4 linked regions of the Homo sapiens genome follow. The protein of the gene in region 3 interacts with the protein of the main gene of each other region in a pairwise test. Each region holds a gene or a part of one and is shown on either strand. Other genes may lie near its edges. The genes, in order: RALYL, BICD2, RBM41 and NINL.

Region 1 (7,028 bases), on a different chromosome or scaffold from region 3:
TCCTGAAAAACATAAAGATGCATTCATATTTTCCTTACTGTGGCTTTAAAAATATCCTTCCTTCAATAATATTACTTCGATGAGTAATATTTCATTCCCACAATTTAACATTAAACTTCATTTTTTTTGTCTCCATATCTTCAAGATCCCAGATGACCTTAAACATGGGCAATTGGACTTCTGCTTCTATTTAGCCTCAATAAACATATTTTTTTCTCAATGGCAACTAATAGACTATTCAACTTTCCTTACGAAAAAAAATTCAAATAGATGGAATACTAGAAAGAATAACACAATAAAACCAGCATAAGCACTCCCTGATTTAAAGTTGGTTAACAAATGATTATTTTACATATACACGTACACAACCCCCCCCCCCACACACACACACACACACACTCCCTCCCTCACTCCTTTGATGACTCATAAGAAATTCAGTTGCGGGCTGGGCACGGTGATTCCAGCAGTTTGGGAGGCCAAGGCAGGCAGATCACGAGGTCAGGAGCTCAAGACCAGCCTGGTCAACATGGTGAAACTCTGTCTCTACTAAATATACAAAAAATAACTGGGCATGTTGGCACACGCCTGTAATCTTAGCTATTCAGGAGGCTGAGGAAGGGGAATTGCTTGAACATGGTAAGCGGAGGTTGCAGTGAGCCGAAATCGTGTCACTGCACTCTAGCCTAGGCAACAGAGCAAGACTTTGTCTCAAAAAAAGAAAGAAAAAAAAAAAGAAAATTCAGTTTCATGTATCACTGCATTTATCCCAAATAATTCAGCACTCATCTGCTAATATCATCTGTTTTCTAGCCCATATGAAAAATTTCCCAATTCTACCAAAATTTGACTTTTTATAGACCACATTTTTAAAAAGTGAAATAAAATAAATCTTCAAGCACTGCATTTGTTTGTCTTTAGTCCTTTTTAATCTGGAAAAGTCCTCCCACAGTGGCACTGACATTTTACAAGTCTAGGCCACAGGGCTGGTATGTATCTTCAATGTGGAATACCTCACCTTATGCATTTGTCTCATTATTTCCTCATGGTTTAGTTTAACTGGTCCTTTCTCTGAATTTTTCTATAAACTGGAAGTTAAATCTAACCAGGTTTTATTAGATTCAGGTTAGACATTCTAGCAACAATATTTCACAAATGGCACTATAGCCTTTATATGGCATCTCGTCAGGAGGCTCATAGTGTCAGGTTGTCTATTGGTGATGTTGGGTTAAATCATTCAGTCACTTAAAACGATGACTTGCAGATGCAATTAATACTTGAGCACTATGAGAATATGTTATTCATCAAAATAATTTTAATTGATTATTTTATCACTTGTTGATCATCTTTGACTGAATCACTTACTTCACTGAGAGTTACAAATAGTAATTTTCTAATTCTTACATTTCTTACACTTAATTCACATTATTTTGTAAAAAGCTGTCCCTCATCAACTAAGAAAGGCAGGCTAATCATTTAATTATCTCAATTTAATTATTAATTGTCATTTTTCTTTTTTATATATTTATTTAGAGTATCATTATGCACTCATGGATTTTACTTTACTCAACGTTTACAATTTGTTATATTCACTCTTGAAATTCAAACTGATTTAAATTGCACAACTGGAAGGCCCTTCAAGCTAGCACTTGTTTACAATGATACAGCCTTATTTGTCTTTGACCATTTCCTTACTTTCTGCAGTGAGTTGTCCCAGGCTCATCTTGTGTTTTTTCTGCCCAGACTTAGAATCAGCCAATTCTAGGTTAAGGAAGACTAAAGGGCTCTTGTCCTCTTGAATGGGGAATGATATTAAGAAGCCATGCTTTGTGCACTAGAAGGGCTCATTGCTTCCTGAAAGACATTGCTTTGAAGATTTTTCAGTAGACATAGCTAGTAAATATATTTATTTTTAAAGCTTTATAGTGTATTTTATTATGTAACAGGTTAGCCCTCTCTTCTTTCTCAGAATATTCTCTGCTATTTTTGCATATAAATATAAATTTCAAATCAATTTAGCTAGTTTCAGGAAAAACTTCCTACTGGTCTTCCTATTTAGATCATGTTATCACTGTACACACACACACACACACACACACACACACAATCACACACACACACGACACATACAATCCTGGGAACAACAGCCCTCTTTATGACGCTGCCACATCATATTGAGGATCATCAATCACATTCATTTAGTTTATTTCAAAAATTCATGGATTTTAATGACAGATTACAAAGCTTTTATCTCAGGTCTTATCTTCTTTTGAGCCTATGCAGCATTAGCTCTGTTGAACAATACTTACATACACACACACACACCCCACATACTTTTTCTGAGCTTCAGTGGCTATCATCCTAACTCTATTTTTCTGCCCTTTATCAGCCCCTTTTACATTCACTCAAAAAAAAAAGCAGATGTTCCCAAATTTCTACCTGTGCAGGACTTATTCCCACTTAAAGAGTTTTAATGTAGATGATACTGTCATATCTCCTTCTAGCCTTAAGTGTGCTTCCCAGCTCTAGACCTGAATTTCCATTGCACATTGGTCATTTAATCCAGAAGTTAATGTCAGAACTTCAAATTACTATGTTCAAAATTGAATCATTTTCCCACCTCCAACCAAATAAGGCTCTCCTACAGATACTACTTTCTCTTGTTTTGTTTTATACCACCTGTTTTCAAGATATCCAGATTCCAAAATTCAAAGGCAGCATTTAACCCTCCCTATACTTTGACCTCTAAATCCACTGATTTTATGAACGTGAGGACTTATGACCAAGTCTTTAAAAATCCATCTCATCATGTGCATTCACACTGTTTCCACTATAGTTTATGTTTCCCATTCTGCATTGAAAGTATTCACTTTTTCAAGTTCCAAGGAAACTAATGATGGAAGACATTCTTGCACATCTGAAGAGGCAATTAAACACAGAATCCTCAAATAATATGTTACACTTATATGTGTTTTATGTTACTAACATAAAATGAGCTTGATAAATGTCACATACAAATATGTGTAACAGTAAAATTGTGAGGTGTTATGATGTTGATGGTGAGATGTTGGTAGACAGACAAGACACCTATATTTACAGAGCTCTGTGTTATGAAAGAATTAGCTGTTCAGCTTTCCTTGCACAAAAGACTAATTTTCCACATCACACTGCAAAAGCTCCAAGAGTAGAGATTACATTTTGTACTCAGTAAGTAAATGCTGAATGTGTTTCCCAGGCTCTCTGCAAAGCAACTAAGGACAGAGAACCGTCTCTTCTGACCCAACCACAGAGCAACAGTGGTAACTCACAAATGTGATGCCATGCATTGGCTCTCTTCAGAAAACCCGTCTTGAAGAGATGTGTGATGACATGGTCACAGAAAGGTCCTTTCAGGACCAGTTAAGAGTATCTGTGTGGGGCAATATTCTTTTGTTTCTGCTCAAAGCACTCACTAGTGGAAAGCACTCCCTGTTGAAAACTTGCCAAACTACAGACATCTTAAGTAATGTATCAAGAATAAATACATAACAGTTGTTTTATATTAGGAAAAACAAAAGAAACAAAAAAATCATCTCCACAAATGAAGCATATCTGTGTAGGAAAAAAAAAAAAAACATGAGTCGTCAGTTAAGACTTCCTACATGTCAAATTTCCCTTTACCACCTATGGAGCTCTGAGCTCCAAGTCTCAGTTTCCTCCAACATATAAAATAATACTATTATCTAATCACGGAAGGGAAGTACAAATGGAATTGCATTCATTTGACACATCAATTTCTTTCCCTCTCATCTTGATTTAATGAAAAAATAGCCGTTCCTTACTCCCACCTGTTAATAATTTCCGAAATGACTCAGAAATGTGTTGCTCCTCTTATTATTTAGCATATGGCTATCAAAATGTGTATAAACATTTTCTCTAAACACATGGATTATGTATGAATGCAATCAATTCCCACTCTGAAGTTTGGGAAAGAATTCAAGCAAAAAGCATATTAGTGAGTTAAATGGAATTTTGCCAAACATATTTATGCACAGAAAATCTCTAGTATTTTGTAATATAAGAGCACTTAGTGATGCATGCTATTGTATCTTTCAGAAGACCAGTGCAAGACTTCCACGTTCTACTCCATAATTTTCCTCTCTATTTAGATTTTTACATGGTCAAATAAATAACTCTTAGAGTCTTGACCCCCAGCTGAGGAGTCTGCAAGGACAGCCCAGAAAATGTAAATCCTAAATACTAACTCAAGTCCTCCAACTGCCATCTCTGTGGCTACAAATGGATAGAAAAAGACATTAAACCAATGCCTCTATTTTCCAGGACTCAGTCCCAGAAAAATAGCAGGATAATTCAAAACTAGCAAACAAAAATCTTTTTAAACGTAAGGAAGAATTTAGAAAAACACAAAGTTAATTTTCCACAAGGTAAGTTTGATATTTAACATAAGTCTAACAAAAGAAAACAAAATTCCCAATGTATTATTGAAAATCTAAAAGCAATGAGGATAAGCAAAACTACTAAAGTTGGCAATAGCTGTGTTATATCTATGCAGTCTGCACATCAAAATTTAATAATAAAAGGAAGGGTGATGACAAGTATAATTATGTAAACTTGTTAACAGTGTAACTTGCTATTGATACATTCAGAAATCAGATATTACTTACATGTTATTGAATATTGTTTTCAAAATCATGATTTAGCAAAACAAACTGTTGTTATTGCCAATAAAATGAAAGTTTATGTTGCCTGCCAATTACTGAAGAGAAATTTATTAAATCAAAGAATCAAACTGAATTATGGAAATGGCATCTTTACAAGCATTCGTACAGGTCACTGGAAGTAGTAGATAGTAACAGTAATAAGAGAATAATAACAATAACTGCAGATCAATAAGGACCTTTTTAAACATGTTATTATTTACTTTCTGGAAGTCCATAAAAATTTGAAGAATAAAATTAATCATTACTTCAGGTTTTCATAGCAAAACACAGAGTTTTCATAATGACAGTATGATAAAAGAAGTAAAGAAATAACTATTTTTAAAGTCTCAGCTAATCATCATTTAAAAATAAAGATTTCATGGCCGATAAAACTATCTGTACAGCAAACCCCTGTGACATGTAATTTAGCCATGTAACAAAACTGTACATGTACCCCTTGAAACTAAAAGTTGGAAAGAAAAAATAAAAATAAACAACTAAAATAAAAATAAAAGTTTCAAAAGTCAGAGAGAAAAATCAATTGTAATTGAAATATTTTTCTCAAATTCGTCCTTACTATTCAAACAATCTTACATACCCACTTCACTTCTCTTCTACTTCCATAATGGAGCTTTTTGAAGACTTGAAATGTAGAGTTATATCAATGAATGCCCTGCTTAATTAGTTGCTTACACTATCAGTAAACAGTAAACAAAACATGACCACACTTTTACTGGGGTAGAGTTGCAAAAACGCAACAGACCTATACTTCTCACTGGAATTTCTATATACTTACTACTGGCTCTTAAAATAAGTCAATATTGCATTTAAGGAACAGCTATCCAAATATTTCACATTTCTTTTAATTAGGAAGAAAATTTTAGCATATCAAATTATTTTTCTAATTAACAATTTGTATATTCTTAAGGCATCATTTATTTGTATTATTATAGTAGCTCTTTTAACCACTAGACTTTCATATAAATTAGAGAAAATAAACCAATTATCATTTTTAAGAAAGGTAACACATCTATTATGGCTAAGGATGTGTCTTTATAATTTTATGTTTGGAACTTTTCCCCCTTGTATATACACCACCACGGTGTGGCTATTTGATGCATGTTAAGAAAAAAATCAGGGTGTTACTTGATTATGACCATAAAAAATAAATATGAAAAATAATTAACTGTTAATCTTCAATGATGAAAAGTTATTCATTTAAATATTCTTCAACAGACCACACACTCAAGACAGAATTCCAACTAGAACTTTCTTTCTTTATATCAAGACTGAGATAGACATTGAAAAATTAATTTAGTAATCCAAGATTTTAAACAATACCCACATTTTATTATCCCATAAAAAGTTCTTGAAAATTTAACAGGTTTTCATTTTGTGATTATTTCTTTGTCACAGTTTAGATAGTACAATGTTTGAGGTCAGATAGTGATCCAATGCCAATTTAATTTGTGGGTCTTATTTCCCTCAGTCCCCACCTTTACCTTGGAAACCCTCTCTCATTACAAAATAGAAACTTTTTTTTCCCTCCTTCTCGCTTAGTAAGCAGTTGAAAAGATCTGCACAATTAAATTGATCTAAATCCCTGTGGGTCGCTTGGCGAATGAAAAAATACATTTTTTCCATGAGAAGCCAGTAGGCGGTGCTAAATCTAGGATACTACCTTCAACAATTTTAAATCAAAAACTAAACAGGTGGCCAGTTTAAGAGTTGTAGAATTCCCAGAATGATTCACACAGGAAGAAATCTGAAAAATTTGAATGTAATAGATAGAAATGTAATACAAGTCTACAATATAATTAAAAATGAATCTTAAATAAATGAAAACATAGATAACTAAAGGTTCTTAGAATGATCTTAAGTTACAGAAATTAAAGCACAACTACCTCTCTGTCCTCACATTAAAATCGTCTTTGGTCCCATTAATTGTTTCAATCTCATTGGGAAATATCACACAGTACAGCTAGTGCTTTGCCCAATCTTAAACCACATACTACCTCAACCTTAGGGCAGCAACTGATTCTCTTAATGAAAATGCAGGTTCGATCATTCAAGTTCTTGCTTGCTTGCTCTGTCTCTCTCTCTCTTAAAAGAACTAAACGACTTACAATACATAAAACATACAAAAATATATTATACACATAAATTGTCTTGCATTTTAATAAATGAGCATTTCTATGTACATACATTGTTATAATTGAAATGATTTTTAAAATCACAGAATGTTGCAAGTGGCTTTTTTAATGTTTTATGTTAGCTGTTTGAGGCATATGAAAGACTGTATTTTAGTAATTAGCTCACTATACAAAATAA
Region 2 (7,028 bases), on a different chromosome or scaffold from region 3:
GGCGCCCGCCGCCACGCCTGGCTAATTTTTTGTATTTTTAGTAGAGACGGGGTTTCACTGTGTTAGCCAGGATGGTCTCGATCTCCTGACCTCGTGATCTGCCCGCCTCGGCCTCCCGAAGTGCTGGGATTACAAGCATGAGCCACCGCACCCAGCCTATCTTCTGAAAGTTTTATAGTTTTAGTTCTTATATTTAGGTATTTGATTCATTTTGAGTTAATTTTTGTGTATAATGTGAGGTAGGGGTTCAGCTTCATTATTTTGCATATATGTATCTACTTGCCCCAGCATCATTTGTTGAAAAACTTTTTTTTTTTTCCTCTGTCGTCCAGGTTGGAATACAGTGGCGTGATCTCGGTTCACTGCAACCTCTGCCTCCTGGGTTCAAACCATTCTCCTGCCTCAGCCTCCCAAGAAGCTGGGATTACAGGCACCCGCCACCACGCCCAGCTAATTTTTTTTTATTTTTAGTAGAGACGAGGTTTCACTATGTTGGCCAGGCTGGTCTCGAACTCCTGACCTCGTGATCTGCCCGCCTCGACCTTCCAAAGTGCTGGGATTACAAGCATGAGCCACCGTGCCTGGCCGAAAAACTATTCTTTGACATCAAATTATTTTTGTACCCTTGCCAAAAATCAATTGACCATATATATGAGGTTTTATTTCTGGACTCTATTCTATCCCGTTGGTCTCTGTATCTATCTTTACACTAGTACCACATTGTTTTGATCACTGTAGCTTTGTATTAAGTTTTGAAATTGTGAGTTCTCTCACGTTGTTATTCCCTTTCAATATTGTTTTAGCTCTTCTAGGCCCTTTGCAATTCCATATGAATTTGAAAATCACCTTTTCCATTTCTGCTAAAAAGGCTTTGGAATTTTGGTAGGGATTGCATTGAATTTCAAGTTAATTATCTTTTAAAGAGATTTAAATAAGAAAAATAAGTACTTTATATTTGCCTATTTAATTATCATTTCTTCCATGTAGATAAAGATTTCCATATGGTATTATTTTTCTTCTGCCTGAAGGATTTTATTTAGCATATCTTTAAATACCAATGCATATCTGCTGTTGATAAATTCTTTCAGCTTTTGTATCTCTAAAGTATTTCACCTCTATTTGTGAACAGTTTTCAGTGAGTATAGCATTCTAGTTAAGTTTTTTTGTTTTGTTGTTTAAAAGATGTTGTTCCACTATCTCCTGGCTTGTTAGAGAAATCAGCTGTCATTTATCTTTGCTCCTCTTGAGTCATGTATCCTTTTTCTTCTGGCTGATTTAAATATTTTTATTATATAATTGGTTTTAAACAATTTTATATTATGCCTTGGTGTAGTTTGCTTCATATTTCTTGTGCTTGGTGTTGACAAGCTGCTGATATCTGTGGGTTTATAATTTTCATCAAATTTGGAAAATTTTCAGCTATGATTTATTTCTTCAATTACTTTTTCTATTTTCCCCTTTTTCTCCTTTGGGTACTCCAATTACTCCTTACATAAGGCTTCTTGAAATTGTGTCATACTTCATACTTCACCAATGCTCTGTTTGAGTCTTGCTTTTGTCTTTTAGCCTTTTTTTCTCTGTGTTTCATTTTGGATAGTTTGCTGTGGTTTTTCAAGTTGACTGATCTTTTCTTCTGCATTGTTTTATCTGCTGTGAATCCCATCCACTGTACTTTTCGTCTCTAGAAGTTCTATCTGGATCTTTTTCTGTCTTCCTCATTTGTGCGCCTTTGCCTGCTCAGTGGTAAGTGACGGGATGCCAGCCAGTGGACCTCACCTGTTGGGAGATGGATGTTTTTGTATTCCTTCATGTGTTCTTGAGCTTTGTTCTGGGATGTAGTTAAGTGACTTGGAATCAGATTGATCCTTTCAGGTTTTGTCTTTATGCTTTGCTCTGTGGTATCAGAGCAGATTTAATCCAGACTAATTTTTTCAGGCCCTGGGAGTGCTCCCCAGCTGCCTGTGCATCAGGAGGGCTCTCCTCTGCTGTTGGGAGCAGGTACTGTTTTTGGCTGGTATAAATGGTGGGGATTGCTTTCTCTGCCCCCTCAGTGGTCCTTCAGTGACTTCTTCAGCTCTGTGCTCCCTGGTCCTCAGTGGAGATTCTGGCCCTGTGTGCAGGTCTGCCTAGCTTGGCTGCCCTGCTGCCATCTTCCGCCATCTTCCAGTCCCTCCTTGACAGGGTCTGCCACGCCTTGCCTCAGTCTCCCATTTTTCCATGGCTGGGAAGTTCTTTTGGTGGAGGGGGCTCCTGGAACTCCCCTCCTCCTGTCTCTCACTATCTAGTGCCCATGATGTGAAAACCACTGCTTATTATTTATTTATATTCTATCATTGCCTGGTTTTTTTCTTTTTCTTTTTTTTTTTTAAGTTTTCACACAGAAGGTAGTTCTAATTTCTGCAACAATCTCATCTTGGCTGTACGCGGAAGTCTGTATCTCAGTGTGTTTGAAAAGCTGCCCAGGAGTGTTTTGGGCCCCAGGCTGGGAGCTTAAGCAGAGGAAAAGATCCAGGGCTCAGGCCAGGAGGCTAGGACTTGAATGTCGTGTCATGGCATTTAGCTGTCATACCTGGAGGAAGCTTCTGAGGTGATGTCTGCATCCCCAGCTCCAGGCTCGTGGGTGTGTTCTGAGCAGCCATGTGTGCTGGACCCTTCATTTGGGTCCCTCCTGCTTGTCAGGAGGCCCAGATGGTCTGGCGCTGCCCATGCCGCCTGCAGCCGGCGGGCCCTTCACCCAATGAGGGACTTGGGGCCTGGCTGCCACTTGGGTGGGGAGCCTGCAGCTGGGGCCAATTCCATGTCCGGTTTCCCTTCTTGTGGCCCGGGGTGGCTGGCCAGGGTGGATGAGGTGCTGTGTAGACATTATGATTTGGACCTTCCTTGGGACTAGGATAAGGAAGAACAGAGCAGAAATCACAGAGCTGACCCGATTGCCTTGAAGAAAAGCGGACATCTTCCACGTAGTGGGTGTTGTGTTGATGGGTGGGGGCAGGTGAGCAAGACCCAGCCTCCTCAGGAGTGTGGGTGCCATAGACATCTGTGCATCCGCAGCAGGAGTGTCCATGTCAATCCCGAGTCCCCCCGTGCAGTCCCATTGCCAGCACCAGTCTTCCTGCTGGGCTGTGTTGTCCTGTTAGCCTTGTTTAGGGGTGTCCCCCGCAACACCACGAGACACACACACACAACACATACATCACAGCACATGTCACCACACCTGCCATAGCACATGTGTGCTCTTCCAGGCAGGATCCTGTGATCCTCACAGTGCTGTAAGATCAATCAGTCTGTCTTCCCCTTGAGTCCCCTGTTGGTCCCATGAGAGTCTATACTCAGACTAGACCCTGGTTTCTTTTACCAGTCTCCTGTTGGGACGAAATGAGTTACTCTTTGTTTTGATTTCTTGAAATTAGAAACTGTCCTGCTCAGTAACATCCTTATTCATGGTTTTTTACATTTTCCCTATTTTCTTGGACTGAATTCTTAGATTTAATATTAAATAGTAAATGAGTGAAAAATGCTCCTTTTTCTCTTTTAGGAAAACAAAGCCATCCGCTTTCAGTCACCTCTCTCTTGATCTTGTTTTCTGCCATGAGCCAGGATTAATGTAAAAAGATAAGGTCTTCTGCAAGAGCTCTGTGGTGGAGTGGCCAGTGAGACGGGCTGCTGGGGGTGACACACTGCGGCCCGTCTGCCCTCTACCCATGGAAGCCCTGTCCTGCCACGCCAGCTATGTGGGGGTAGTGGGCAGTGGGAGGGAAGGAGAGGGATGGCACCTGCTTGGAGGCTGGGCCACTCGCCTGGGGTGTACACGATGGGAGGCTGGCTGGCCTGGATTTTGGGGCATGGACATGACACAGCTGTCGACTCTCAGGTGCGTGGGCAGGTGGGCGTCCTGGGCTAGGTGAGCACCCCTTTCTGGTTGATCTCACCCATAAGGTCTCCTCCCTGAGCCCCAAGGCCCTGCACTTCTTTGCCACGTGCAGCCCCCGCGCCCCTTGTTCCTCACCCCTCTGGAACATGCTGGTATCTTGGCTTCTGAGCCAGGAACTGGGCAGAGTGGGTGGTACACTGTGCTGGCCTCTGTCTAGTTCTTACCATCACTGCCATCCTCGGGCCTGGGGCTCTGACTGCTCAGCCCAGGTCTCTCCCAGAAGGAGTGAAGGATGAGCCAGCATCAGGCAGCAGGATGGACAGACTCCCTCTGCCTTTCATATGTGGTGGCCGGCGTGCCATCTGGAGTGGGGAGAAGGTGGGGGCTGTGTGGGAGCTCCCTCTGCCGGCCCCCAGCTGCTGTCACACATGCCCACTGTAGCTCCCTGACTCCAGCACTTGTCTTGCCAGTGCAGACACTGTTCCTCAGAGACCAGGCTTTCTCTTATTTTGGTGAAGCAGATGAACCTTGGGTGCAGCTTGTTGCATTTGCATATGTGCACACCACAGTGCACGCCACAGATGCACCTCCCAGGTCAGGGGGCCTCCCTTCAGGCCCACAGTCCCCGTTGTTGTTGCTGTTGTTCTGCAGCATGAATGTCGCCTGTGAGCTGGGTCTCTATCCTTCGGCGCCCCTGGGAGGCCCACCTCACGAGTGTCTTGTCTTCTGATGCAGGCCTTTGGACAAGCACACACAAACCACAAGAAGGTGGCTGCTGACGGAGAGAGCCGGGAGGAGAGCCTGATCCAGGAGTCGGCCTCCAAGGAGCAGTACTACGTGCGGAAGGTGCTAGAGCTGCAGACGGAGCTGAAGCAGTTGCGCAATGTCCTCACCAACACGCAGTCGGAGAATGAGCGCCTGGCCTCTGTGGCCCAGGAGCTGAAGGAGGTGAGGGGGTGAGGAGGGGCCTAGTCTGTGGCTGCAGCAGTGCCACCAGTGTCACATAGCAGGTGTGCCTGGTGGGTGGCTGGGCTGGGCTGGCCTCTGGGGACGCTGCAGCTGGCTGGTCTGTCTTGCTTTCCTGGTCTCATCCTCCACTGCACTCCACTGCCACTGTCCTCCACGTGGCAGAAGGGAGAGAGATGGACCCACAAGTTCCACTGCCTCTGGCTTGCTTCTGTCTCACTCATGAAGCGAGTCCCATGAGCAAGTCCAGAGCAGAGGAGTGGTCAGTCAGGGAGGGGTGCAGTTAGCCCCTTGTGGAGGCTAAGGGCTGATGCCCATGGGGCACTCCTCGTCATTGGACTCCCCCCTGCCCTGGGAATGTTTTGTGTCACTCAGGGCCTGCACTGTGCCCAGCTGTAATAAGAACACAAACCCCAAATATTCCATGGAGACTCGAGGTAGGGTGTGCGTGTCTGAGAATTAGGGGTGGAGACCACCGCCAGTAGCCCCAGCTGCCACACCCCTGCCTTGTTCACAGCAGAGTGCCCGCAGGGAGGGTCTGGGTGGGTGGTCCCTGGCACCAGAGCCTGTTGGAGTCCTGGGTACCCATGGACAGCCATTGGTACATGGCACAGGCTCTACATCTGGAAATGGGACTGTGGTGTCCGTCCATGAATCCGTCCAAGTCCGTGCATGACTTGTGAACATGAAGTCAGAGGAACCAGCTTGGCTCTTGGGCCCTGATAGGGGCAAAGGCCACAGGACCAGCTGCTCATGGCCCTGACACTAAGGCCCTGGAGTTGTGGAGGACTGGGGAGCCCAGGGGAACGATGTGGCCAAAGCAGGATTTGGGAAGGTTGCTGTGGTGCCTGGAACCTGTGTAGTTTGAGCCCAGCAGGAGGAGGAGAGCCAGGAGTCTCCATCCACTGGGGCAGGTGGGAGGAGAGTCTCGCTGGCTTGAACAGGAGGCTCAGGGAAGGTTGAGTGAGCACCTGAGTGTCTTTTCTCACTGACTGGCACATATTTTAATTGAGCCCTGCCAGGGCCTCGGTGTCTGTGGAACCTGAGGAAACAGTGTGAGCAAAGCCTCATTCTCCTAGAAGGCATGTGGCAGATATCAGGGGAGAGCAGTACCCCGTGCCTGTCCCTGGGGCAGGGGCATGTTCACTGTGGTGCTGAGCCAAGGGCAGGAGGAGTGTCAGGAGAGTCCTGCAGGCCTGGGTGGGGCCCTGAAGGAGGCAGGGTCCAGCTTGGGTTTGGTGGCTACACGGGGAGTGGGCTGTGGGGACAAAAGTGAGGCTGAGACGACTGTCTTGGGGGCAAGAGGGGCCAGTGCCTTCTGAGGAAGGATGAGGCCCCATCACCAAGATGGAGGTGGGATGGTCCCTGGGGACTGCAAGTGGAGCTGGAAGTTGGCACGTGAGCTGCAGTCCTCCTGGCCGTGGCCTTTGAGGGTCAGCCCCAGGTTCTCATTGGGAATGGCTGGAGGAGTGGAGCATGGGTCGGTTGAGAATGGGCTGATACTGGCTTTGCCTTTCACTGAGCCTTGGGGCCTGGGCAAGGCCTTATCTTTAGTCCTGGCCTCAGTTTCCCCATCTGTAAACCGGCAGTCTCTGAAGCCCGTTGTAGAGGATGCCCCACAGGTCTTTCACCCCACATTGTGGGAGCACTTATGGACCCTTGTTCCTGACACAGGAGCACCACCCTCTGCAGCAGATAATCTTACGGGAGGTCAGCAGGGCATAGGCCCTGAGGGTATGCAGTGATTAGGGCTGCTGCTGTTGGCTTAGCATTCCAGTACTGAAGGATGCTGCCCTCGGGGTCAGCAGCGGAGTGAGGGGTCAGAGATCGCTGAGGCCCTAGGGGCCCAGGGAGGAGCTTGGCTTAGACTCAGGGTGGGGAGTCTCAGATCCTGAAGCGGCAGTACATGATCTCATTTCCTCTCACAAGGAGCCCTCTGGTCGGTGGGAGGAGGGGCTGTGTGTATGGAGAGATGTATCCTTGGCTGCCCCAGCTGCCATCTGTCTGGCCCGTCTATTCCTGAAAAGCGTGTGCAGGTGCTGTCTCCCCAGCCCAGCACATTCTGCCCCTTCTCTCTTCCAAGAGGCCTATCTCTGGTGGCAGAGGCCAAAGAGGGCTGGGTGACCCTGCTGGCTTCAGGTAAGACTGGAAATGAGCACAGCAAGTTAAAGATGCTGCAGGTCTTGTGGGG
Region 3 (7,028 bases):
ATGTTGGTCAGGCTGGTCTCGAACTCCTGACCTCGTGATCCGCCTGCCTCAGCCTCCCAAAGTGCTTGGATTACAGGCATGAGCCACCACACCTGGCCTTGTTGGACAATTTCTTAAAGCTTATAGGACCTTTTCACTTTGCTGCTTTGCCAACAGCAATTTAAGTCATATGTCATATGACAGCCAGGTAGAGCATTCTGAAGAGAAGACTCATGTGGTAGCATATACCCAACTCACGACCAGGCAGTCAATTATTGGCTAATTCCAGAGGCACCAAGGCTACCAGCTATGGTGGTCCTATGAACACTATTTGATTATTACACTGTAGGAAATTGGATGTTACTATTCCTTCAATTCGGGGCTTCTAATGGGTATGGACTAGAGTCTTATCAAGATTTCTTTAAAACGCTAAGGATAGTTCAGGACCTTAGCAAAGTACCAAGAACCTTATAGGAAATATGCTACTTATATAGTATGCAGAGAATGAATAGTCAAGGTCAAGGACAAACACAATCACTGTGCCTATATCATGATTCTTTGGTATAATCAAAGCTAATTTAAAAGTATTACTTTAGGTAGAGGTAAATAAAAGCGAAATCAACCCAGGTTGTTTTACTTGGTTTGGCCTATACCTTGTTTGGTTCCCCTGGATTATATGAAGAAAACATAGGAATTTTTCGGATCTCTTCCTCTGACAAACGATTTCTCTGGATTTCATCTTCTGGGACAAATTCTATTGGCTGCGTCAGCTTCTTAGGCCCAGTCCAACACTGCTCAGGTGAAAAATCAATAACATTTGCCACATGGAGACTGGGGCCTTTACCCTGTGCTGCCTGTTTTCCCTTGTCCTGGAGTAATGATGGGCTCTCAGCTGTGCCACTATCACCCACTGATGTAGCTGAGACCAGTGAGTGGGAAGCAAAGGGTTCACCTCTCATAAGTTGAAACTCTTCAAGACGTTTTTTCATTATCATCTCTTGGTAAAAACTTTCCAGGTTGTTCATGGGATCACCTTTGTTCTTCTTTTGGGGTTCATCTGGATCAAGACAAAGAGATAGGGAAGTTCTACAAAGCCTACCAATACAACCTTTGGCAAATTAATAAAAATTAAATCCTGGACCTCAGATAAAGAAACACTGCTGGGGCAGGTCTTTACAACCTGTGACAAATGACAATGGTAAATAGTTATCTTATTATAGTATATTTCAAGCAGAACTATAGGCCAGAACTATGGTGAGGCAAGTGAGGCACCTAGAGTCATGCAAATATATGCACCTCTAATTGATAAGGACATTTAAAAACATATAAGCAATATAGCATTATACTTCACAAAATTAATAATTCCTTAGTATCATCTAATACCAATGTTATGTTCAAATTGTCCTGATTCCATCTAAGATTTTTTTATACTTGTTTATTCAATTCAAAATCTAAACTAGCCTTTGGCTGTTATATCTCTTAAGATACTTTTATTCTAAAACAGTGCCTCGTCTCTCCCATCCCTTTATTTCATTTTCTCACTCATCCATTGATTAAATAAACTACATTTGTTCTATGAACAAATGAATTTGATTAATCATTTTCTGATGGTGTTGTTTAACTTGTTCCTTAATCCCTTCTATTTCTTGGCAGATAATCCATAACTATGCTACCTAATATAGTAGCCACTGGTCACATGTGTCTATTTAAATAAATTTTTAAATATCAGCTCCTCAGCCGAACTTAACAAATTTAAAGTGTTCGACAGTCACATGTGGCTAGTGGATACCATATTGGACAGAACAGATAAAAACTATTACATCATTTTAGAAAGTTGCATTGGACAGTGCTGATCCAGAGGTTTGATTAGGTTCAGGTTCAATATTTTTAGGAAATAATCCTTTATAGACAGATATGTACTTCCTATTGTATCATGTCATAAGACACATAACGTTTGGTGGTCCTATTTTTAGTGATACTGAAATTGATCAGTGGATTGAGGTGGTAGATGGCATTAGTCTCATCCCTCCATTATTAAATTTTCCCATTCACCTTCCACCTAATGGGTTTTTTACATCCACTGATGACCACTGCCTAGTCTATTAATTTATTAAGAGTTGCAAATCATGGCTTTCCTAATTCTTTCTTTTACGCTTATTATCCGTAATTCTAAAATGAACTTACCATCATCAACTATGTGGTTTCCCTAAAAATGTAGATCATATGGGAATGGCAGGATAAATGCTTGATTCTTTGCCATTATTTACCAATTATGAGAGTAAGAGTTGACATCTTAGAAATGTCTAATGGAGGCCGGGCGTGGTGGCTCATGCCTGCAATCCCAGCACTTTGGGAGGCCGAGGCAGGCGGGTCACAAGGTCAGGACTTTGAGACCAGCCTGGCCAATATGGTGAAACCCCATCTCTACTAAAAATACAAAAATTAGCCGGGCATGGTGGCGGGTGCCTGTAGTCCCAGTTACTCGGGAGGCTGAGGCAGGAGAATTGCTTGAACCTGGGAAGCGGAGGTTGCAGTGAGCCGAGATCGCGCCACTGCACTGCAGCCTGGGCGACAGAGTGAGACTCCATCTCAAAACAAAAAAAATGTCCAATGGTGACCAATGGTTATTTTTAGTATAATAATGAAATCGTGTATTTTCATATACTTTATCTGTGTCAATTAAACATACTCATTATTCTTTTTAGTGGCCAAATTATCCCACTTAAGACCAGTGGGAGCCCCTTCAAATCGGCTCCTGTATTGCTTCTCGGCTTTCTGGCACAGCCAAATATCCTAAGCTCATCTTGCATACCTCCTAACTCAAACCTGGAATATTTTTGTAGGGACCCTTGGTTCCTTTTAGTAGGAAGTGGTATTTAGAAACCAAAGTGTGTTGCTGGTGTGTGCAGAAGCAACTTCCAAGTTGTTGTTTCCAGGCCTTTTCAGTGGACAAAAGCTAGGACATTTTTTTTAAAATGATCCACTAGAATGGTTTTATTTTATTTTATTTATTTTTTTTTAAATTTTACTTTAAGTTCTGGGATACATGTGCTGAATATGCAGTTTTGTTACATAGGTATACATGTGCCATGGTGGTTTGCTGCACCTATCAACCCATTATCTAAGTTTTAAGCCCCGCGTGCATTAGGTATTTGTCCTAATGCTCTCCCTCCCCTTTCCCTCCACCCCCCGAAAGGCCCCAGTGTGTGATGTTCCCCTCCCTGTGTCCATGTGTTCTCATTGTTCAACTCCCACTTATGAGTGAGAACATGCGGTGTTTGGTTTTCTGTTCTTGTGTTAGTTTGTTGAGCAAGAGGGACATTTTTAAAGAGAAAAGTAAACCATGAGTTTATATTGGTATTTCCAACTCAAATTTAAGATAACAAGATTTTTACTTAAACTCCTTTATTTTAGAGTGTATCTCCTCTCATATGCTTAATATTAGCAAAATTATTCATTAGCTTCTTCCTACAATATACTTACAGAATTTTACAATGTCAATAACAATACTATCACCAATAAAACTGCTGAATATAGTTTTATATTTCTTTTGCAGTTACTTTTGCCCTTAGAATATGGGTCCCATTGGAAATATACAAATGTTTTAAAGTCACTATAAGTAACTGCTTTGTTTTCCAATTGTGTGTTTATGCTACTAACTTTATTTATCATTAGGCTCATTTGCTTCAGGTTGTTTTTGAATTTTAGGGATTGAATTTTACCTTTTTGATTAAACTTTTAGATGATGCAAAATATTTACATGGATCTAAAGTGAAACTGTTATACAGTACCTTCACAGAAGTCTCACTTCCATCTCTGTCCCCTTTATCCCATTCCCTTCATTCCCCATAAATAATAATTTTTATTAGGTTTTGGCTTATGGTTCCATTGTTTCTTTTTTGAAAATATAAGCAAATAGGCATATATACACATATACATAATTCATTAGTTATACCTCTCTCCTACATAAAAAGTAACTTACTATAAGCACTGTTCTACAATTTACTTTTTTGCACTTAACAATATGTCCTGGAGATAGTTCCATGTTAATGTGTAGAGCTCTTCTCATTCCTTCGTAAAGCTGCACAGTACTCCATTGTGTGGATGTACCATAGTTTATTTAACTATTCCCCTCCTGATACACGTTGGTCTTATATCTAGTCTCATACTGTTATGAATAATGTCCTGATAAACAGCTTTGTGCATACAGGATTTGGTATTTTTCAAGTATATGTTTAAAATAGATTCCCTGAAGTGAAACTGCTGAGACAAAGGGCAAATGTGTATGTAATTTTTCTATGTATTGTTAAATTTCACGCTGTAGGAGTTATACTATTCTATATTTCCACCAGCAAGGCATAGGAGTAGTTATGTAAGTATTTCCTAAGACACAAAAAGCACTAACCATTAAGGAAAAGATTGATAAATTCAACTACATTAAAATTAAGAACTTCTGTTCATCGAGATGTCATAAAGAGATGGACCAAAAAAAAAAAACCCCACAGGATAGGAAAAGATATTTGCTACACAAAGAATTATCAGAGAACTTAAAACTAAAATACATGAATAACTCCTACAAATCAATAAGAAAAAGATGAACAACCATTAGGAAAATGGGCAAAATACTGAAGAGATACCTTACAAAAGAGGAAATACACATAGCTAATAAATATATGTGGGCCAGGCGTGGTGGCTCATGCCTGTAATCCCAGCACTTGGGAGGCTGAGGCAGGAGGAAAGTTCCTTGAGCCCAGGAGTTCAAGACCAGCCTGGGCAACATGGTGATACTCTGTCTCTAAATTAAAAAAAATAATAAAATAAATATATACAAAAGTGCTCAGCCACATTAGAATTCAGGGAAATGCAAATTAGGAAGGGTATAAGATACTAATAGAAAACCAACATATTGGCAAAAATTAAAAAGAATGCCAACATTACATGTCAGTGAAGTTGTAGAGCAACTGGTACCCTCACATATTGCTAGTGGGAATGTGTATACACAGTGCAAATCAACATGACATCATCTACTAATGTTGAAGATATGCTCAACATACAATCCATCAATTCAACTCCCACATATATACCTTAGAAAAATGTAGGCATATATGCACCAGGACACAATAATAAGAATTTTCAGATCATTGCTATTTATAATTGCCCAGAGTTAGCAAAAATACAAATGTTCATCTAAGAAGAATTAATTATAAAATTCTGGTACGTTTATATGATGAAATACTATCATCCAAAGAAAGTGAACAAATTTCAGCTACATATGTCCAAGTGGATGAATAGATTAATAAATACACTAAAAAATAATTAAGGATGCATCAATAAATAAGGATTCCTCCCTTTGTAGAGCTAAGTGAATTACATGGCATGTTAGAAGGTAGGAGTGCTATAAAAAAGAAAAAAAATACAAGATAAGATTGGAAGAGCTATGGGGTGGTTGTAATTTTTAATGTTGGTCTGGATAGGTCCCATTGAGAAGGTGCTATTTGAGTGAAGACCTGAAAAAAGCAAGGGCATCTATCATACTGATATTAGAGTAAGGTCTCAAGGTAGGAGTATGTCTCAAAAAAACTAAAAAAGACTGAAATCATATAAAGTATGTTCTGTAACCACAATGGACATACATTAGTGATCCACTACTGTAAGAAACGGGAAAACACAAATATCTGGAAATTGAACAACAAACTTCTAAATAACCCATGGGTCAAAGAACTCATAAAGGAAATTTAAAAATATTTTGACCTCAATGAAAATGAAAACACAACATATCAAAATTTATGGATGCAGCTAAAACAATGCTGCATCCATATGATAGACAGTTAAAGCTTTAAATGCCTGTATTGGAAAAGAAGAATGGTTTCAAATTTAAAACCTGAGCTTCCAAGTTAGGAAACTAGAAAAAGAGTCAACTAAACAGAAAGCAAGTAGAAGGAAGAAAACAATAAAGATTAAGAAATAAATCAACGCAATAGAAAATGGAAAAATAGAGAAAAATCAACAAAACCAAAAGCTGGTTCTTTGAAAAGTTTAACAAATGACAAACCTTTACCTAGACTGAACAAGAAAGTAAGAGAGAAGACAAAAATGACTAAAATCAATAATTAAAGAGGAAGCATCACTACTAACTTTAGGGAATGAAAAACAATTATTTAGGAATATTATAAATAACTTTAGGCCAACAAATTAGGAAACCTAGATAAATGGACAAATTCATAGAAAGATACAAATTACCAAAGCAGTCTCAAAGAAAAAACGAATAACAAGAGGGTGCATTAGTACTCAATAAACAACCCACAAAGAAAAACCCAGGTCCAAATGGCTTCATTGGTAAATTCTATCAAATACTTAAAGAAATAATACTAATCCTGCAGAAACACTTCAGAAAAGGGAAGAGAAGGAAATACTTTCCAATTCATTCTATGATATCAGTATTACACTGATAACAAAACTAAACAAAGATATTACAAGAAAACCACAGACCAATATTCCTCATGAATATAGATGCAAAAATACCTAATAAAATATTAGCAAGCCTCATCCAGCAACATACAAAATAATCACACACACATAAGTGGGATTTATCCCAGAAATGAAAGATTGGTGTAACATCTAAAAATCAATAGATTAAATCTTAAATCACATGATCATCACAGTAGGTGCAGAAAAAGCATTAAACAAAATCCAATACCCATTTATAATTTTTTAAAAGCTCAATTAACTGACACTAGAAGGGAGCATCTTCAACCTGCTTATGGTAGGCTGAATAATGGCCCCCCAAAGATGTCCACATCCTAATCCCTGGAATCTGTGAAAATGTTAAATTATACTGCAGAGGGGAATTTGCAAATGTGATCATGTTAAGGTTGAGATAGGAAGATGATTCTGGATTATGCAGGTGGGACCAATGCAATCATAAGGGTCCTTATCAGAAGGAAGCAAGAAGGTCAGAGACAGAATGGGAGATGTGATGATGTATGCAGAGGATAATGTGAGGAAGGGGTCAAGAGCCAAGGCATGCAGGTAACCTCTAGGATCTGGAC
Region 4 (7,028 bases), on a different chromosome or scaffold from region 3:
AAGATATATGGGAAACCTCTGCTAGGTGAATCTCAAAGTGGGAAAAGGCAGGGATAGACAGCCACTATGTGAACCAAGTCTGCCTGGGCCGTCTTTGTTCTCTGACAACTCAGGGAGTCCCTGCTTGGGTAATGCCATTGATTTGATAGATGAAGATGGCAATTTACCAATGAAGATCACTAATGGGAGCCAGGAGTGGCGGCATGCATCTGTAATCCCAGCTACTGGGGAGGCTGAGGCAGGAAGACTGCTTGAGCCCAGGAGTTTGAGACCCTCCTGGGCAACATAGTGAGACCTTGTCTGTGAAAAAACAAAAAAGATCACCAGTGAAGTAGCTTAAGACCCATACTTGCTACCCAGAGAATGCATTCTTAATACTGACTGGTAAGGCTAACGTGTATTCCCCAAATAGGTCTCCATATGGTACTAGCTTCTTATTTTTTCAGTCTGAAAATACTGAAAGCCACATGATCTCACCATGTTCACTTCATGTATTTTTTTGTTTTTTCTTTGAGATGGGGTCTCATTCTGTCACCCAGGCTGGAGTACTGTGGCACGATCATGGCTCACTGCAGCCTTGAACTCCCAGGCCCAGGAGCTGGGACTACAGTAGGCATGCGCCACCACGCCTGGATAATTTTTGTTGTGGTGGAGATGGGGTCTCGATAGGTTGCCCAGGCTGGTCTCGAATTCCTGGTGATCCTCTCACCTAGGCCTCCCAAAGTGCTGGGATCACAGATGTGAGCCACCACGCCCAGCCCGCTTTATGTATTATACTTATAATAGTAAACATAAGTATCTTCTTCATATGCCTTCATTTTATCTCATGAGGAACTAAAGACAAAAATAAATAGTCACTGGAATTAAAGGCAGCAAAGGGTTTCAAGCAGGAGAGTTCTGTGTTTTTAAACTATCACTCTGGCTCTAGAATGGAGAACAAGTTGATGCAAGGCCGAAAGCTGAGGGGTGCCCTACCCCATCCCCCACATGACCACCAAACAACTAGATCCTGCGCAAAGCTGATCGCAACCTCTGTGACTGTCCTCATGGAAAGAAAAGAAAACCTGCAAGAATCTCCAAACAAAACAAAATCCTGGAAGCTGAAACCAACGCGTGAGCACTATGCAACACAAAGCTGGGGGGACCTTGCAACCAATGCCTATGTGTCAGCACTGCTATTAGCAGAATGGAGAAGCTGCACTGTGGACACCTGCACCAGACAGGGCCCTGGAAGGAGGTTCAGACAGTCCCAGATTAGCACCTTCTCACTTCTCTGCAAAAGCAATAGCATCCCATATAAGGCTCTTTATATTCCCAGAGATTAACATCAAGCAAATATGAGCTCACAATCAAAGATCACCATAACATACATGGAGCAAAGCCACCCATAAATGACAGCAGAAGCCAGAAGCCAGAATTCAATCCTCTAGAAACTGCAGGTATTGGACTTATTAGACACAAACTAAAAATAAGTGTTATGAAATGTTTACATAAATAAAAGACAGCAACAAACAATGAACAAGCAACAAGAAACTATTGACAATGATCAGACAGGACCAAACAGAATTTTTAGAAATGAACAAAAAGTCAATGTCAAAATAAAAACTCATGGGATGGTTTAAATAGCAGATTACACAGAGCTGAAAGAAAGAGATACTGACCTGGAACACATAGGTATGTAAAAAATACCCCAAATGTGATACAGACAGAAGATGGAAAATATAAAAGAGAGGTTGAGACATAAAGTGAAATGCTCTAACAGTCACATATCTAATTGAAGAAAATAGTGGGAGGAGAGGATATATATATATATATATATATATATATATATATATATATATACTTTTTTTTTGTTTTTGAGACGGAGTTTTGCTCTTGTTGCCCTGGCTGGAGTGCAATGGCGCGATCTTGGCTCACTGCAACCTCCGGAGAGGCAATATTTTAATAGTAATGGCTGAGAGATTTTCATGAGACACCAATGCAATCCATACATTCAACAGGGAAAATATTTCTTTTTTTTTTTTTTTTCCCTTTTGCTCTGCCGCCCAGGCTGGAGTGCAGTGGTGCAATCTCAGCTCACTGCAGCCTCAACCTCCCAGGCTCAAGTGATCCTCCCATCTAGCCTCCCAAATAGCTGGGACCAAAGGTGCGTGCCACCATGTGTGACTAATTTTTCTTAAGTTTTTGTAGAAAACAGTCTCCTTATGTTGCCCAGACTGATCTTGAACTCCTGGGCTCCCAGAGTCCTGGGATTATAGGTGTGAGCCACTGTGCCTGGCTGGGACAATGTTTTCTAAGTAGGATGAACAAAAAGAAAACTATGCCTATACCCACAACATAACAATCCCATTTCTAGGTACAGCCCAACATAATGCTCCAAAAGACAAATGCAAGAACGTTCAGTGCAGTTCCATTTGTGAGAGCCAAAAACTAGGAACTACCCAAATGCCCATCAACAGGAGAAAAGAATAAACTGTGGTATGTTCACACAACAGAATACCACACAGCAATGCAAATGTATGAACTACAGCAACAACACAGATCAATCGCACAACCAGGTTGAGCCAAGAAAGTCAGACACAGAAGAGTACACACTGCATGATTCCTCTCCATAAAGTACAAAAACAAGCAAACTGAATCTATGCTGTAAGAAGTGGTTACCCCGGGGACTCTGGTGAATTCCATCTCTTGTTCTGGGCGCTGGTAACACAGACGTGTTCAATTTGTTGACAATTCTCCTAATTGTACAAATATATACATTTTCTTATGTGTATCACACTTTAATAAAAAGTTAAAAAGAGGCTGGGCATGGTGGCTCACACCTGTAATTTCAAGGAGGATCCACTTTGGGAGGCTGAGGCAGAAGGATCGCTTGAGGCCAGGAGTTTGAGACCAGCCTGGGCAAAATAGTGAGAGACTATCTCTACAATGAATAAAATAAAATAAAATATAAAATAAAATAATAAAATAAATAAAATAAAATAAAATAAAATAAAATAAAATAAAACAAAGTGGCCAGGCCTGGTGGCTCAGGCCTTATGTAATCCCAGCACTTTGTGAGGATGAGGCAGGCAAATCACTTGAGGCCAGGAGTTCAAGACCAGCCTGGCCAACATGGTGAAACCCCGTCTGTAGTAAAAATACACACATACACACACACACACACACACACACACACACACACACACACACATCAGCTGGGCATGGTGGTGGGCACATGTAATCCCAGCTACTTGGGAGGCTGATGCAGGACAATTGCTTGAACTTGGGAGGCAAAGGTTGCAGTGAGCTGAGGTTGTACCACTGCACTCCAGTCTGGGCAACAGAGTGAGACTCCGTCTCAAAAAAATAAATAAATAAATAAATAAAAAGTTAAAAAGAAAGAAATGCACACAGCAAATAAAAACCACTAAAGATACAGGTCTCAGAAGTAACCAGAGCACAAAAGTCAGATACCTACTGTGGATGGCACAATACTGGCCTCTAACAGAGACTATGTGACATTACACAGCAGGGGGAATGAAGGCTGCTCGTTCTCTGACTGTAGATTATTCTGGATTCTCCAGAGGAACCCAACGTAATCACAAGTGTCCTTAGAGGTAGAAAGTGGAGGCAGAAGAGTCAGTGTTGGAGTAAGGTGACATGAGGAGGACTCGGCCATCCAGGGCTGGCTTCCAGGATGGAAGGACGCCTCAAGTCAAGGCCACTGGAGAAGGTGAGGCAGGGAGCTCCCCTCGGGGCCTCTGGATGGCCCTGCAGCCCTGCCAGCACCTCATTCCTAGCCCAAGGAGACCCTTTCCTCTTCCAACCTCTAAAACTAAAACATCGCACTTTTGTGCCTTGTTAAGCCACCAAGTCCGTGGAAATGCACACGAAGGAAGAACAGACGGACCAAGGGCCAACCATGCAGTGTCAGCAACCGGGTCTCTGACACGGACAGCAGACATTCCAAGGGTGGAGAGGCGGCCATTTAATGGCTAGATGTGCGTTCCTAAGAATACTGTCTTACAAAAATGAAGGAACATTTAAGATACTTTTCAGATAAGCAAAAACAGGAAATTTACTCTAAACAGAGTTTCACTAAAGGAACTTTTTTTTTTTTTGAGATGGAATCTTGCTCTGTCACCCAGGCTGGAGTGCAGTGAGTGGTGTGATCTCGGCTCACTGAAACCTCTGCCTCTCAGGTTCAAGCGATTCTCCTGCCTCAGCCTCCCAAGTAGCTGGGACTACAAGCGCATGCCACCATGCCCGGCTAATTTTTGTATTTTTTTTTTTTGGAGACAGAGTTTCGCTCTTGTTGCCCAGGCTGAAGTGCAGTGGCGCGATCTCAAAACTCACTGCAACTTCCACCTCCTGGGTTCAAGCGATTCTCCTGCCTTAGCCTCCCGAGTAGCTGGGATTACAGGCGCACGCCACCACACTAATTTTTGTATTTTTAGTAGAGATGGGGTTTCACCACGCTGGCCAGGCTGGTCTTGAACTCCTGACCTCAGGTGATCCACCCACCTTGGCCTCCCAAAGTGCTGAGATTACAGGCATGAACCACCGTGCCCTAGTTGTTACGAGGTTTTAAATTCCTGATTCCTGGTGGTGCACGCCTGTAATCCCAGCTACTCAGGAGGCTGAGGCAGGAGAATCGCTTGAACCTGGGAGGCAGAGGTTGCAGTGAGCCCAGACAGCACCACTGCACTCCAGCCTGGGCCACACAGCGAGACTCTGTCTCAAAAAAAACAAAAAACAAAAAACAAAAAAACCTCCTAACAAAGCCCAGGAGCTGATGGCTTCACTGGTGAATTCTACCACTTAAAAAAGAACTTCCACCACCTCTTCTCAAACTCTTCCAAGAATTGAAGAGAAGGGAACACTTCCAAACTCATTCTATGAGGCATTACTTGATACCAAAGCCAGACAAGGACACTACAGTCCAGAAAAGAAAACTGCAGACCAATCCCTTATGATGCAAAAATTGATGCTAAAATCCTCAACAAAATACTAGCAAAAGTTATTGTTTAATGGGTATACAGCCTCTTCTGGGAACAACAATGAAAAATCTTTGGAAGCGAGGGCCGGGCGCAGTGGCTCACGCCTGTAATCCCAGCACTTTGTGAGGCCAAGGCGGGCAGATCACCTTTGAGGACAGCCTGGCTAACATGGTGAAACCCCGTCTCTACTAAAAATACAAAAATTAGTCAGGCGTGGTGGCAGGTGCCTGTAATCCCAGCTACTTGGGAGGCTGATGCACAAGAATATCTTGAACCCGGAAGGTGGGTTCAGGACCCCGAAAGGCAGTCCTGCCCTCCCTCTGCCCAGTGGTAGAGCACCAGATGACCGTGGCATTCCGGGACGGGGCTGGGCTCACAACCCCTACTCAGGCTGAAGGGCTACACAGCCCCCATCAGGGGCTGCGAGCTTGTCGGCAGGAAGGGCCACATAGCACCATTAGCAACAGGGGTCAGTGGGTTAGTTCTGCATTTTTAGTTTGAAGTGTTTAGTTTTAAGAATGAGTAGAAGGCAAACCTGTCGTTCTCTCTCAAATCTACATGTTTCTCCAGAGCCCGGACGACGTCTTCCAGATGTAGAAGTTTGGTTTCCATGTCATCCTTCTCTCTCTCCAGCGCTATTTTGGTCTCCCCCTCTTCTGGGGCAGCAAGCTGCTCCTGCCAGGAACCCTGCGGGTCTGCGAGCTGGAGGTGGGATGGCAAGGACCCTCTCCTGGCAACCTCCACACTGTGCTTGTGACACCCAGGCTCCAGGGCGCCCTCGGCCCGGGCCTGCTGCTCCGAGGCCTGCTCCTGGGTGCCCCTGCTCCAGCTTCGTGCTCGCTCTTCCTGAATGGCCTGTAGCCTCTCAGCCTGTCCCCTGCACGAAGCGGCCGGCCTCAGGGGTGGCTCCCACATCCGTGGCTGGGTTTGCGAGGCGTCTCTCTCTGTTCCCAGCAGAGGCAGCTCCCGGGCTCCAGGCTGCTCCAGCCCCGCTGCGCTCGCGCCGAAAGGCTCTGGCTCCTTTGGGACAATATCCCCATCCACTCCACAGGGCTGCATGCGTGACCACCTCTCTGAGGGGCCGTGGGATGCCGGGGCAGGGGCGGGGGCCGGGCTCTGCGTAGCTTCTGTGTCCTGGGCTTGCCTGCGGCGAGGCCCGGCTCCTGCCGCCTCCTCAGACTCTCTGCCATCACCTGGGGCCAGCCAGGCCAGTGGCCGCTCCCCACAGCCCGGACGCAGTGGTAGGAGGCCACGTGTGCCCTCCTGGCCACTTCCTGCCACCAGCCCATCTTTCGGCAGGGCCTGCATCTCTGCTTCCAGGGAGGGCCCGTCCACTCGCTTCCCGCGGGCAAGCTCCAACTCCTCCTCCTCGAGGGCCAACGATACGCACATCTGGGCGCGCTTCTCGCTCGCACAGGGCTGCAGCTTCAGTGCCCTCTCCAGCTCCAGCTGCTCCGACCTCTGGCTCCCGCGTGGCAGGGGTCCCTGCGGCGGCTCCTCCAGCTCCAAGGTCAGGTCTCTGCGAGCGGGCAGGGCTCCCAGCCCCGACAGCTCTCCACTCAGCTCCGCCTCAGCCTCTCTCCTGTGGAAGTAGAACCGTCACACACCACAGCCCTGCCGCCCCCAGCCCCTCTCTCGGGTTTGAAGTCTGCCCAGCTGTTGCAACGGCTGCGACCTCCTCTCTGTGGTTGGCTTTCTTTATCCCTCCTCGCCTCCCTCAGCCCTGGCTTCAACCTATACCCTGGGCCCTACTTCAGAGTCCAGACGAGGATCCGCCCCACGGAGCGAGGTTCTGCACATGGAAGCCCAAGCACGAACCCTTTCCATGTGGAGTGTTCACATGGAAGATGGCCGCCACCATGCAGGACCTGGTTGCAGCCCCTCGGCCGTGCAGGCCACGTTCCAAGCCCTCAAGGCTCCCAACTGGACAGGGCAGACATACGACGTGGCCCACACTGCAGTGGGTTCTACACGATAGCGCTGGAGACCCAGAGCCAAAACTGTCCCCTAATTCCCTGAAGCTGCTGGGCCTTGGGACCTCTGGTG

Evidence for each region.
Region 1: the proteins of RBM41 (region 3) and RALYL interact in binary tests that used the Homo sapiens proteins (3 or more experiments, as listed by UniProt).
Region 2: the proteins of RBM41 (region 3) and BICD2 interact in binary tests that used the Homo sapiens proteins (3 or more experiments, as listed by UniProt).
Region 4: the proteins of RBM41 (region 3) and NINL interact in binary tests that used the Homo sapiens proteins (3 or more experiments, as listed by UniProt).

Annotation. Positions count from the first base shown.
Region 1 is NC_000008.11:84,186,258-84,193,285, reverse strand, and holds part of RALYL (RNA-binding Raly-like protein), read right to left. Parts: intron 1-7,028.
Region 2 is NC_000009.12:92,726,815-92,733,842, reverse strand, and holds part of BICD2 (protein bicaudal D homolog 2), read left to right. Parts: intron 1-4,606; coding exon 4,607-4,819; intron 4,820-7,028. UniProt on the Homo sapiens protein: Acts as an adapter protein linking the dynein motor complex to various cargos and converts dynein from a non-processive to a highly processive motor in the presence of dynactin.
Region 3 is NC_000023.11:107,087,804-107,094,831, forward strand, and holds part of RBM41 (RNA-binding protein 41), read right to left. Parts: intron 1,088-7,028; coding exon of another isoform or gene 1,037-1,087; coding exon 633-1,036; intron 1-632. UniProt on the Homo sapiens protein: May bind RNA.
Region 4 is NC_000020.11:25,470,526-25,477,553, forward strand, and holds part of NINL (ninein-like protein), read right to left. Parts: intron 6,565-7,028; coding exon 5,518-6,564; intron 1-5,517. UniProt on the Homo sapiens protein: Involved in the microtubule organization in interphase cells. Overexpression induces the fragmentation of the Golgi, and causes lysosomes to disperse toward the cell periphery; it also interferes with mitotic spindle assembly.